Linked DNA regions of Homo sapiens: region 2 is linked to region 1. A link means that fine-mapping ties the variant in region 1 to the expression of a gene that starts in the linked region. Tissue or cell type: whole blood. Region 1 holds a variant in brackets; the other region holds the start of a gene. All regions are shown on one strand. Distances are from middle to middle.

The links. PIP is the estimated chance that this variant, and not a neighbour inherited with it, causes the effect.
Region 2: it holds the start of TRAP1, and the variant in region 1 is fine-mapped to the expression of TRAP1 in whole blood (INTERVAL, PIP 0.94).

Annotation. Positions count from the first base shown.
Region 1 is chr16:3,658,112-3,663,481 of GRCh38, forward strand. It overlaps TRAP1 (TNF receptor associated protein 1), which reads right to left. Exons shown (of 18, transcript NM_016292.3): 14 at 5,313-5,370; 15 at 4,771-4,856; 16 at 3,876-4,021; 17 at 682-754; 18 at 1-119. The coding sequence ends at 18. It also overlaps a transcript of DNASE1 not described here. Among named protein-coding and RNA genes, the nearest start is that of DNASE1, 6.1 kb to the left of the region's middle. The variant TG/T (reference allele first, on the strand shown) is at 2,843.
Region 2 is chr16:3,714,232-3,720,082 of GRCh38, forward strand. It overlaps TRAP1 (TNF receptor associated protein 1), which reads right to left and starts at 3,293. Exons shown (of 18, transcript NM_016292.3): 1 at 3,190-3,293. The coding sequence starts at 3,277. RefSeq lists an enhancer at 1-39 and silencers at 2,894-3,013, 3,034-3,643.

The DNA of each region.
Region 1 (5,370 bases):
TTCTGGCCCCCTGGCTGTCAGTGTCGCTCCAGGGCCTTGACAAGCAGCTCATTCAAGCGGCCCACCATGGCCCTAGGGTCGTCAACAAGTCCAGCAGCAATCATGGCGTTCTCGTATATCTGAAAGGCAAGAGGAGAAACCCATTATGAGGGGCATGGGGCACCTTTTCATTTTTTTTTTTTTGAGACAGAGTCTCACTGTTGCCGAGGCTGGAGTGCAGAGGCACGATCTCGGCTCACTGCAACCTCAGGTGATCCCCCCGCCTCCCAAAGTGCTGGGATTACAGGCGTGAGCCACCACGCCTGGCCATTTTTCCGTTTTTAAAACAGAATTTGGCTGGGCACGGTGGCTCACGAGGTCAGGAGATTGAGACCATCCTGGCCAAGATGGTGAAAACCCCATCTCTACTAAAATACAAAATTAGCCAGGCGCATGCCTGTAGTCCCAGCTACTCGGGAGGCTGAGGCAGGGGAATTGCTTGAACCCGGGAGGCAGAGGTTGTAGTGAGCCAAGATCGCGCCACTGCACTCCAGCCTGGCAACAGAGCAACACTCCATCTCAAAAAACAAACAAACAAACAAAAAGACAGGATTTTAGAGGAAACCGCTGTTCCACCCTGAAGGCAGGCTGGCAGGGCTGGTAGCCTGGGTCCCTGCAGTCATCCTAAGCTGCTGCACTCACCTGATCCACCAGCAGCTGAGCCAGGCCAGGCTCGCTTGCGCGCAGCTGATTCAGCTTCTTGATGAGCGCGTGCCTGCAACACAGAACCCACCAGAAAAAGCAGCTCAGTACCACGTGCTGTGACCCTCCCTTCATGTTTTGGGATTATCAGGATATTTAAAGAAGCACAGTAAGACTGTCTGTAGTTTTTTAAATAAGGTATGTTAATGATCATTTATAGATAATATCATTATATACCCAGAAAACCCAAGAGAATCAGGAGTGTCAGTATTAGAAAATGCTGTAAGGTAGCCAAACTCCAAGATTAATATACACTAAAGGGACAAAAGGAGCTTAGTACGTGAAGACATGCCTTGGTTCCTAGATAAATAATAAAAGAGAAGGGAGTAAGACCCACATGTTGAAACATATTATAGGGCTCTAGTAAATAAAACAGTTTAGGTCTGGAAAGGGGGAAGGCAAACAACTCCATGTAACGAGGGTGGACACTGAGTGTCTGATGAGGACAGTATTTCACAGAAGAGGGAGGAGACAGATCACTCCATCCAGCAGCACTGGGATGACTGGGAGCCATGCAGAAAACCATTTAGACCAGAGTAAATTCCAGAGGGATCAAAGATGACAAGCACAATTCTAGGGAAGAAATGTTTCATCATCTCAGAAGGGGAAAGCCTTTCCAAGCAAAACCACAAACCAAAAAGTAAAGAATGATTGACATATTTGACGTCAGAACAATATTTTTTTCTGCATAGGAAAAAGCATCATGTAGTATTTAACCTTAACATGAATATTATAATTTTTCACTTAGAAGTCTGATAAAACCGAGGGCTCTGGGGAACTGTAAATTTGTACAACCTCTCCAGAGGACAACTGGAGTCGGGAAAACCACATGTGGATGATATGCTGAGACTCAGCCATTCCATTTCCTAACTGCATCCCTTTAAACACTTTTTTTTTTAGATAGATAGATAGATAGATAGATAGATAGACTCTCACTCCTTCACCCAAGCTAGAGTGAAATGGCATGATCTTGGCTCACCGCAGCCTCCTGGTTTCAAGAGGTTCTCTTGCCTCAGCCTCCCAAGTAACTGGGATTACAGGCACCCACCACCACCCCCAGCTAGTTTTTGTATTTTTAGTAGAGATGAGGTCTCGAACTCCTGACCTCAAGTGATCCACCCGCCTAGGCCTCCCAAAATGTTGGGATTACAGGCGTGAGGCACCGCACCCAACCTAACAGAGGAAACACTTCAAATGCACATCCTCACATTTCTAGTCTACGTAGCTGGAAAAAAAGGACATTCTTAATATGCTAATGTGGAGGTCACCTAGTTACCCTAAGGGAGAAAAGCAAGGCAAGGACCCACTGCACAGCAAGTTCCCCCTTGGAAGCCCACGGGCGCAGCTGCCCACAAATGCACATAATCTCTGCAGAAATACAAAAGCCCTAATGCTGGCTGCACTGGGGACACAGGTAGGAGGAAATTTTCCCCTGTAAGCAGTTTTGAATTCTGAACTATGTGGACAGAACACCAAATTTTAAAACAAATGAAAGTGAAGCTGGCTGGGCACAGTGGCTCTCGCCTGTAATCCCACCACTTTGGGAGGCCAAGGCTGCAGTGAGCTCTGATGGCGCCACTGGTACACTCCAGCCTAGGTGACAGAGCAAGACCCTGTCTCCAAAAGTGAAGTGGCAACAGACAGAAACGAGCACTTCTGCAGCTATCTCACAAAACTAGTTTGCCACCAAAACTAGTTAAAGTGACCTGGTGTCCGCCTCACTGAGCTGCTCCAGCAGAGGCACAGGCATTCTGCATACTGGCGCTGCTGTGCACTGACAGCCATAAGCCAAGTCAGCCTTTCCCCAGGAGTGCCATGGCTAGGAAGATGCATCTCCCTCGCCTCCAGTATAATTTTAAAAGTTATGGTTGTAAAATGACAAAAGAAAAAAACTAGACATGTACTAAAGAACAAAACAAAAACTGGCTGGGGGTGGTAGCCCACACTTGTAATCCCAGCACTTCGGGAGGCTAAGGCAGGTGGATTGTTTGAGGCCAGGAGGTAGAAGTTGCAGTGAGCTGAGATTGCCCCACTGCACTCCAACCTGGGGGACAGAGTGAGACCCTGTCTCAAAAATTAAAATACTACTTAGGCTACATTG[TG/T]GGGGGGGTGGTAAGTCTATGGATTTTGATTTCCTTTTTGCTGTTTTCTATTTTTGGTAACATGTTTATGTAACTTCATTTTTTAAAAAATTGCTACATTCAAAATTTCCCCCAAAAAAGAAACTTCATATACAAGTTAGTTCATATACAAGTTAGAAAATGAAATTTTAAAATACCCCATAAGACACATCAAAGAATAATTCTTTAAAAATGGTACCAGAACCCTACAGAGAATGTAAGGTACCAAAGGATGTTAAAGACCTAAATAGATCACATTCATGGGTGCAAAGAAGTGATACTGTAAAAAGAAAGAAACTCAAAAGATACCTAAAGGCAGGTGAAAAGACATTTACAACAGATAAAGGGCATATAAAGAACAACAGGAAGAAACGAGGGAAATCTTACGGCTCAGCCACTGTCAGGGCTGGGGGGTTCTCGGTGCACCCTGGAAGCAGCTCCCACCACCGGGGCCACAGAGAAACCCACACAAGCCCCAGACACGTGGACAAGAATACTCAGAGCAGCCTGGCTCTCCACAACTTCTGACCAAGAACCACCGGAGGCCCAGCAGAGCAGAACGGAGCAGTCTGCTGTGCCGAGGTGGGTTTCTGCAGCGGACATTATTCGGCTATGAAAATGAACTTGTGGCAGCCCCTCTGCATGGGCAACCCTCATGCCAAGTGAGCAACGTGAGACTTCAGCAAACACCAAGATCCACGTACAAAGCTCAAAACAGGCAAAACTGAGCATGTCCAGGACACGCACAGGTGGCAAAGCCATAAAGCAAAACGAGGACATGGTCACAGGCTGGGATGTGGCTAACCTCCCAGGTGACACCTGGGGATGGTAAGGGGCTGGCCAGGTTCCATTTCACATGGGTGCAGCCTAAACTGCATACAGCTCCTTATAGTTACCCACATGTCCACAGGCCTCACGCACTTTTCTTCTGTGTCACATTCCACAACAAAAGAACACCACACACAGGATTCTGGGGAATCCCACAGGCTGGAAGAGCCAGGAGCGTGGCCTCACCTGGGGTTGATCTCCAGCGTGGGCTGCAGGAGCTGTGCGCGCTCCTCCTGGGTCTTGGCCAGCTGCTGCATGCGCAGGAAGTGGCGGGCAGCCCCCATCTCCAGCACGGTGACCATGGCAGGGTGGGTGTCCAGTCGGAGGGTCACCTGTGAGCAAAGCCCGGGGTTGAGGGTGATAGAGGTTCCCAATGTGAGAGGGCTGGCAGGATCTTACCAGGGGTGAAGGTCACCCAGACCACGAGGTAGCAGGCGGGGTCTCAAGGACTCCCCTGGACCAGCGCTGCTCCCTCCCCATTACCCACTAACTTGTGGGCCCTGAGCTGATGCCCCACGCAAAGATACTGTGCCCGAGGGGCTCCACCACCCTGGTGCCCCGCTGCTGCCTCCAGGAGCTGCCCGAATCCATCGTCCTCTGCTCCATGCCAGCCCACCCTGCATGAGGCCCCTTCCTCCAAGTGACCATGCATGGGACGCTCATTTCTCACTCTGAGCTAGACAGGTTGGTGGGGGGAGTCTTAGCTCTCTGAAGCCCACCCAAAACCCCCGACTAAGCACCCAAGTGAGCATGTGAGCTCCTGAGGGCTGGGGTAGCATGTCCCTTGTTTGGAACCCCCACGTCCTCAGCCATTGCAGCTCCCACTCAGGATGCTGGTTTTTCAGTTCTCAGTTCACACCTGCTCTGGAGCAGGGCTGGGAGAAAGACACGGCCTTCCTGCCTCAGCGGCACTCCCGAGCAACACGTGCCGAGCAGGGACCCACAGGGTCTCCACCTGACACCAAGGGCTTCTGCTGCTGCTGGAAGGACACCCAACGGGCCAGGTACTGGGAGCCACCAGCTGGCCAGCCTGTTAGGGACACTGCGGCCAAGTGGTGGTCCATCCCCGGGAAAGCCTCACCTTCACGTTGGTGACACGCGACCCCAGCACATTTCTCATCCAGGCCATGAGCTCCTCCGTCTCCTTCTCTGATAGGCACTCGGCGGCTGCGGAAGAGCAGGCGACAGGGAGCTCAGGCCTGCATCCCAACTCCCCGGCTTCCATGGGGGCCACGCAGCATGCTTCCAGCTCCCACCTCCTCTCCCACCAGGATGGAGACACAAGCTAGCAAGATGCTTTTCATCTAAAAGTAAAACCTCAAAGGATGCTTCAGGTTGCCTGAGGCCCATACAACTTGGTTAGGGCTTTAAAAAAATACACAGCCTCTCAAGAAGCTGGGCCAGCTCCAGAAGCCACCGTGGCAGGAGCACTGGACAGACCCCTGATATCTAAACCAGGAGGCACCTTCCTCCAGTCACCAGGGTGCTCCCACAAGGCTCTTCTCGGGGGTGGCTGAGCCCAGGTCAACTGACGAAAACCCAAAGGAAGCCCTCGCTGCGGGGCAGGAGAGGCGTGCGGGGAGTGGAAACCAGCCCCACGCCTAGAGAGCAGGGGATGCCGACCTGGGGACCTGTCCTCAAACTTCTCCTCCTTGTAGTGATCCACGACTATGTCCGTCTC
Region 2 (5,851 bases), 56 kb after region 1:
CTCCAGACAGCAGGGTCACATTTTCTTTGACGACTCGGGGGCATTGGAAATGTATTTGCTGAATAAACTGTTATGGGCAAAAATGACAAATATAAAGTCCACAAGCGGATATCCTAGCCCACCCCTCACAGAAATATTCTGAGGGTAGGCCAGGCGCAGTGGCTCACGCCTGTAATCCCAGCATTTTGGGAGGCCAAGGCTAGTGGATCATGAGGTCAGGAGTTCGAGACCACCCTGGCCAGCATAGTGAAACCCCATCTCTATTAAAAATACAAAACCTAGCTGGGTGTGGTGGCATGCGCCTGTAGTCCCAGCTACGTGGGAGGCGAAGTCAGGAGAATCACTCGAACCCAGGAGGCGGAGGGTGTGGTGAGCTGAGGTTGCACCACTGCACTCCAGCCTGGGCAACAGAGCAAGACTCCGGCTCAAAAAAAATCAAATAAGATATTCTGAGGGCAAGTGACAGGGCTGGCAGTGTCAGGGGTCAGTGAGGTCTGAAAGGGTAAGAGGGCTGAGCTCATGGGTGACTGAGGCAGCGTAGCATGGGCGAGAGGATTCCACAGACATAAGACACGCACACCTGAAGCCAGGCACATGCTACAACCTGGAAATACTTTCCCAAGAAAAGAAAAAAATTTCAAGAGGTCTGGATTTTCTACATAGGTGGATCTGCCTAAACTATTCTTTCTCCCCTGTTGCACAAGACATGTATTTTCTTAGCTAAATTCTCTCATCGTTCAATCAATCCAAACAATTTACCTTCCCATTCATCCACACAGGTGACAATGACAAGGGCACCTGCCACGCAGAAGGCTGCCAAGAACATGTTCCATTTCTTAGACTCAGGCAGAGGAATGCTTGAACCACCGCACCAGAAGATGGAGGACGAGAGGAGAGAGACAATTTTTAAGAAAAAGAGATAAAGGGCTGGGCACAGCGGCTCACGCTTGTAATCCCAGCACTTTGGGAGGCCGAAGTGGGCGGATCACGAGGTCAGGAGATCGAGACCATCCTGGCTAACAGGGTGAAACCCCGTCTCTACTAAAAATACAAAAAATTAGCCAGGCATGGTGGTGGGCGCCTAAAGTCCCAGCTACTCGGGAGGCTGAGGCAGGAGAATGGCCTGAACCCGGGAGGCGGAGCTTGCAGTGAGCCAAGATCGCGCCACTGCACTCCAGCCTGGGTGACAGAGCAAGACTCCATCTCAAAAAAAAAGAAAAAGAAAAAGAGATAAAGAAACAGAATTAAAATGTCCCTGGGCTGAAAACTGACATATTTTCCAAATGGAAGGGACAGTGCATGATACAAAGCATGAATCACAAACACCTGTGGACGCGAGACCACAAACGACAAAGAGAAAAAATCTTAACCTCCAAGGGGGAAAAAACCCGAGTCAGCTACAAAAGAAACGAGAACCAAATTAACAGAACAGTTGGCCAGGCACGGTGACACACGCCTGCAATCCCAGCATTTTGGAGGGCAAGGCAGGCAGATCACTTGAGGTCAGGCACTGGAGACCAGCCTGGCCAACATAGTGAAACCCCACCTCATAAAGACAAAAAAATAAATAAATAATTGATCAGACACTGGTGCTAGAAGAGAGCAACAGCATCACTTTCTGAGGGAAAATTATTATTATTTTTGTTGTTGAGATGAAGTCTCACTCTGTCGCCCAGGCTGGAGTGCAGTGGTGCAATCTCAGCTCACTGCAATCTCTGCCTCCTGGGTTCAAGCGATTCTCCTGCCTCAGCCTCCCAAGAAGCTGGGATTACAGGCGCGCGCCACCACACCCAGCTAATTTTTGTATTTTTAGTAGAGACAGGGTTTCACCATGTTGGCCAGGCTGGTCTTGAACTCCTGATCTGCCCACCTCAGGCTCCCAAAGTGCTAGGATTACAGGCGTGAGCCACCGCGCCCGGCCACAAGGTATCTTTTATAGACCACTGGTTTTGAAAAGACATAAGATTCAGCGTTGAAGAAAATACCTTTGGAATAGGCAGTCTTGATGCCTGCTAAAGGGGATATAAATTGATAAGGCCTTTTTGGACAATTTGGCAGTATCTGCTAACATTTCAAAAATGCATAGGCTCTGAAATATCAATTCTAAAATTCTAATTATGTAAGGCTAAAGAAATACCGCACGTGAACAAATATTTAAGTACTCACCCATTCTATGCAGCATTGTAATAAAAAGTAAAACCTGAAATAACCTTTATTGCGTCCACTAATAGGACAATGTTTAAACAAATGACACGTCCATCATACAGAATACTGTGTGGTCACTGGAAGGCACATGGACCTGTATACACTGACATGAAAAGATGTGGAAAGAATGCTGGGAGCGTTAAAATTTTCTGAAGTACAACGTAGCACAATGCATACATGGTTTAGGCTTTTTAGAATAAAAAATACTTATACGCAGACATTTATATTTACACGTATAACACTGTGTACAGCCCCGAAGCAATGCCGAAACTTTCACTGTTGTTACCTCCGAGTGGGGACTGGGAAAGCAGAGGTTAGGGTCGTTCTCTCTGTTTTACAAACATTTATTGGCGCATCCATCAATTCCAGGCCCCGAGGACACAGCTGCGTCAACGACATCGAGTCCACCTGCTCTGGGGACCCGGATGACTGCTATAGGTTTTGTTCACTGTGGCGTCCCCAGAACCTGCACGGCGCCGGGCACTGAGCGGGCGCTCACATGTGCGTCCAATGAACGAATTAACAAATGAACCCTCAGTGCGCTACTGGGAGGCGGGGAGGGGTAAAGCACGATCCATGGAACTAGCACGATCACCCCGAGTGAGTCCATTCCCCGCAACATGCACCCGCAAAGACTCCGCGCTCCGCAGCGGCTCCACCTGCACGTGCGCTACCTGACTGGACCGAAGCTCCAGGAGGGACGACCCCGCAGCCGCTCCGCCCGACCCCGCGACCCCCCAAGACCCAGCCTCCTTCAGGGCTCCCATGGGCGGGTGGCGAGGGGAGTCCAGCCGAGGAAAAGGCAGCCAAGCTGGAGCTGGCGAGGAGCGGAGCGAAAGTAAACGCGTCTGCCGCGCTTGGCCTCGCCGGACCTCCCACGCCTGTGAAGCAGGTGCCGGCGCCTCGCTCCCCGGAGCACAGGGACGTCCCTGCCGTCTCCGTGGCCCGGCCCGCCCGCTGCCCGTCCAGCCAGGACGCCCTCACCTCCCGGCACGGCCGCCAGCGCCGGCGCCCGCAGCAAAGGCCGCAGGCGGCGGCCCCACAGCAGCAGCGCCCGCAGCTCGCGCGCCATGTCGTACTCCCAGAGCGCCGCGCGCAGCCACGCGGGACCGTACACGATGGGAAGGGGCGGGACGGGGCTGCGCGGGGCGGGGCTTCCTCGGGCGCGGGGCGGTGACGTCACGGCGGGCGCCGGGCTGTCCGGGCAGCTGCCTGCTCGGGCGCGTGGCGGGGTACTACCCGTCTCGTGGACGGTCGGGCCTGGGGGTGGGACCTCCGTGACCTTGGATCGCGTTGTCAAGGGCGACGGGCCTTGCGCGCGGAGGTGGGGGAGGTGGCCCCGCCGCCCCCGGCCCACGCTGGCCGGCTGCGCCTAGCTGTGCGCATTCCTGGAATGGGGCGGATGTCAGTATCCACGCGAGGGTGTGGAGGCGACGCTGGGGAAGAAGCAGTTCCCGTGTCTGCGACCTTTGTGAATCCCGGCCATCCGTCTAGGCCGCTGCAAGTCTCTTGCAAACCAAGACTGGACAAAAAGCTAAAGCGAATGAGGAAGGGGATTCCAGGCTTGACTGGCTACTACTCCAAAACCTGAACCCAGTGACCAATACCACCAGGAAAACTGCGGTTATTCGTTTATTCCACTTCTCTTGTCCTTGTCGAGAAGAGTCAAACTCTAAAGTATTTAGAAGGTTATTCTGAGCCAAATATGAGTGTGCATGGAGGGAGGCACAGTCTCAAAAGGTCCTGAGAACTTGGCCCAAGGTGCTTGGGTTACAGCTTGCTTGGTTTTATACATTTTAGAGAGACATAAGACATCAGTCAATGCATGTAAGACATAGGTTGGTTCCGTGTGGAAAGGCAGGACAACTCAAAGGGTGAAATACTTAGAGGTCATAGGTGGATTCAGATACTTTCTGATTGGCAATTGGTTAAAAGAGTTGAGTTCTGGTTGGGCGCGGTGGCTCACGCCTGTAATCCTAGCACTTTGGGAGGCTGAGGTGGGCGGACTGCCTGCGGTCAGGAGTCCGAGACCAGCCTGGCCAACATGGTGAAAACCCATCATCTCTACTAAGATACAAAAAATTAGCTGGGCAAGGTGGCACGTGCCTGTAGTCCCAGCTCCTGGGGAGGCTGAGGCGGAAGAATAGCGTGAACCCGGGAGGCTGCGGTTGCAGTGAGCCGAGATCGTGCCACTTGCACTGCAGCCTGGGCGACAGAGCTGTGACTCCGTCTCAAAAAAAAAAAAAAAAGAAAACAAAAAAAAGAAAAAAAAGAGTTGAGTTATACAGACCTGGAATCAATAAAAAGAGTGTCTGGGTGAAGATAAGGGGTTGTGGGCACGAGCACGGTGACTCACACCTGTAATCCCAACACTTTGGGATGCCGAGGTGGGCGAATTGCTTGAGGTCAGGAGTTGGAGAGCAGCGTGGGCAACATGGTGAGACCCTGTCTGTACCAAACATACCTGTACCGGATGTGGTGGCGGAGGCCTGTAATCCCAGCTACAAGGGAGGCTGAGGTGGGTGGATTGCTTAAGCCCAGGAGGGAGAGGTTGCAGTGAGCCAAGTTCGTGCCATTGAACTCCAGCTTGGGCAAGAGAGCCACACCCTGTCTCAAAACAAACAAACAAACAAACAAACAAAAAACAGGTTGTGAAGACCAAGGTTCTTATTATGTAGAGGAAGTCTCATAGATGACCACCCTTACAGGTAATAGATGGCAAATGTTTTCGCAAATATTGTTTATTCAGACCGTTAAAAATTCCTAGACCCTCAGGATCAGGAAAAGACCTGCAAAGGTGGCCTGGCATGGTGGCTTACGCATGTAATTCCAGCACTTTAGGAGGCCAAGGTGGTCTTATCACTTGAGGTCAGGAGGTTGAGACCAGCCTGGTCGGCATGGCAAAACCCCATCTCTACTAAAAATACAAAAATTAGGCCAAGAGCAGTGGCTCACGCCTGTAATCCTAGCACTTTGGGAGGCTGAGGCGGGCAGATCACCTGAGGTCGGGAGTTCGAGACCAGCGTGACTGACAGGGAGAAACTCCGTCTCTACTAAAAATACAAAAAATCAGTCAGGCGTGGTGGCGCATGCCTGTAATCCCAGCTACGCAGGAGGTTAAGGCAGGAGAATCGCTGGAACCCAGGAGGTGAAGGTTGCAGTGAGCTGATACCGCACCATTGCACTCCAGCCTGGGCAACAAGAGTGAAAGTCTGTCTCAAAAACAAAAAAAATTACCTGGGTGTGGTGGTGTGCACCTGTGTACAGCTGAGGCTACTCGGGAGGCTGAAGCAGGGGAATCGCTTGAACCCAGGAGGCAGAGATTGCAGTGAGCCAAGATCGCACCACTGCACTCCCACTCCAGCCTGGGCAACAGAACAAGATTCCGTCTCAAAAAAAAAAAAAAGTCCTTTGTAATGTTAACGCTGGTCAGTTGTGCCTCATTTCCAAGGGGTGGAGGGTGTAATGAGGCAGGACCCACCCCATCCTTCCAATTATGGCCTGAACTAGTTTTTTAGGTTTCTTTGAAATCCCCTTGGTGGAGAGGAATGATCCATTCCATGGGTTGGGGGACTTATAATGTGTTTTTGCCGGCTGGGCACGGTGGCTCACGCCTGTAATCCCAGTACTTTGGGAGGCCGAGGCA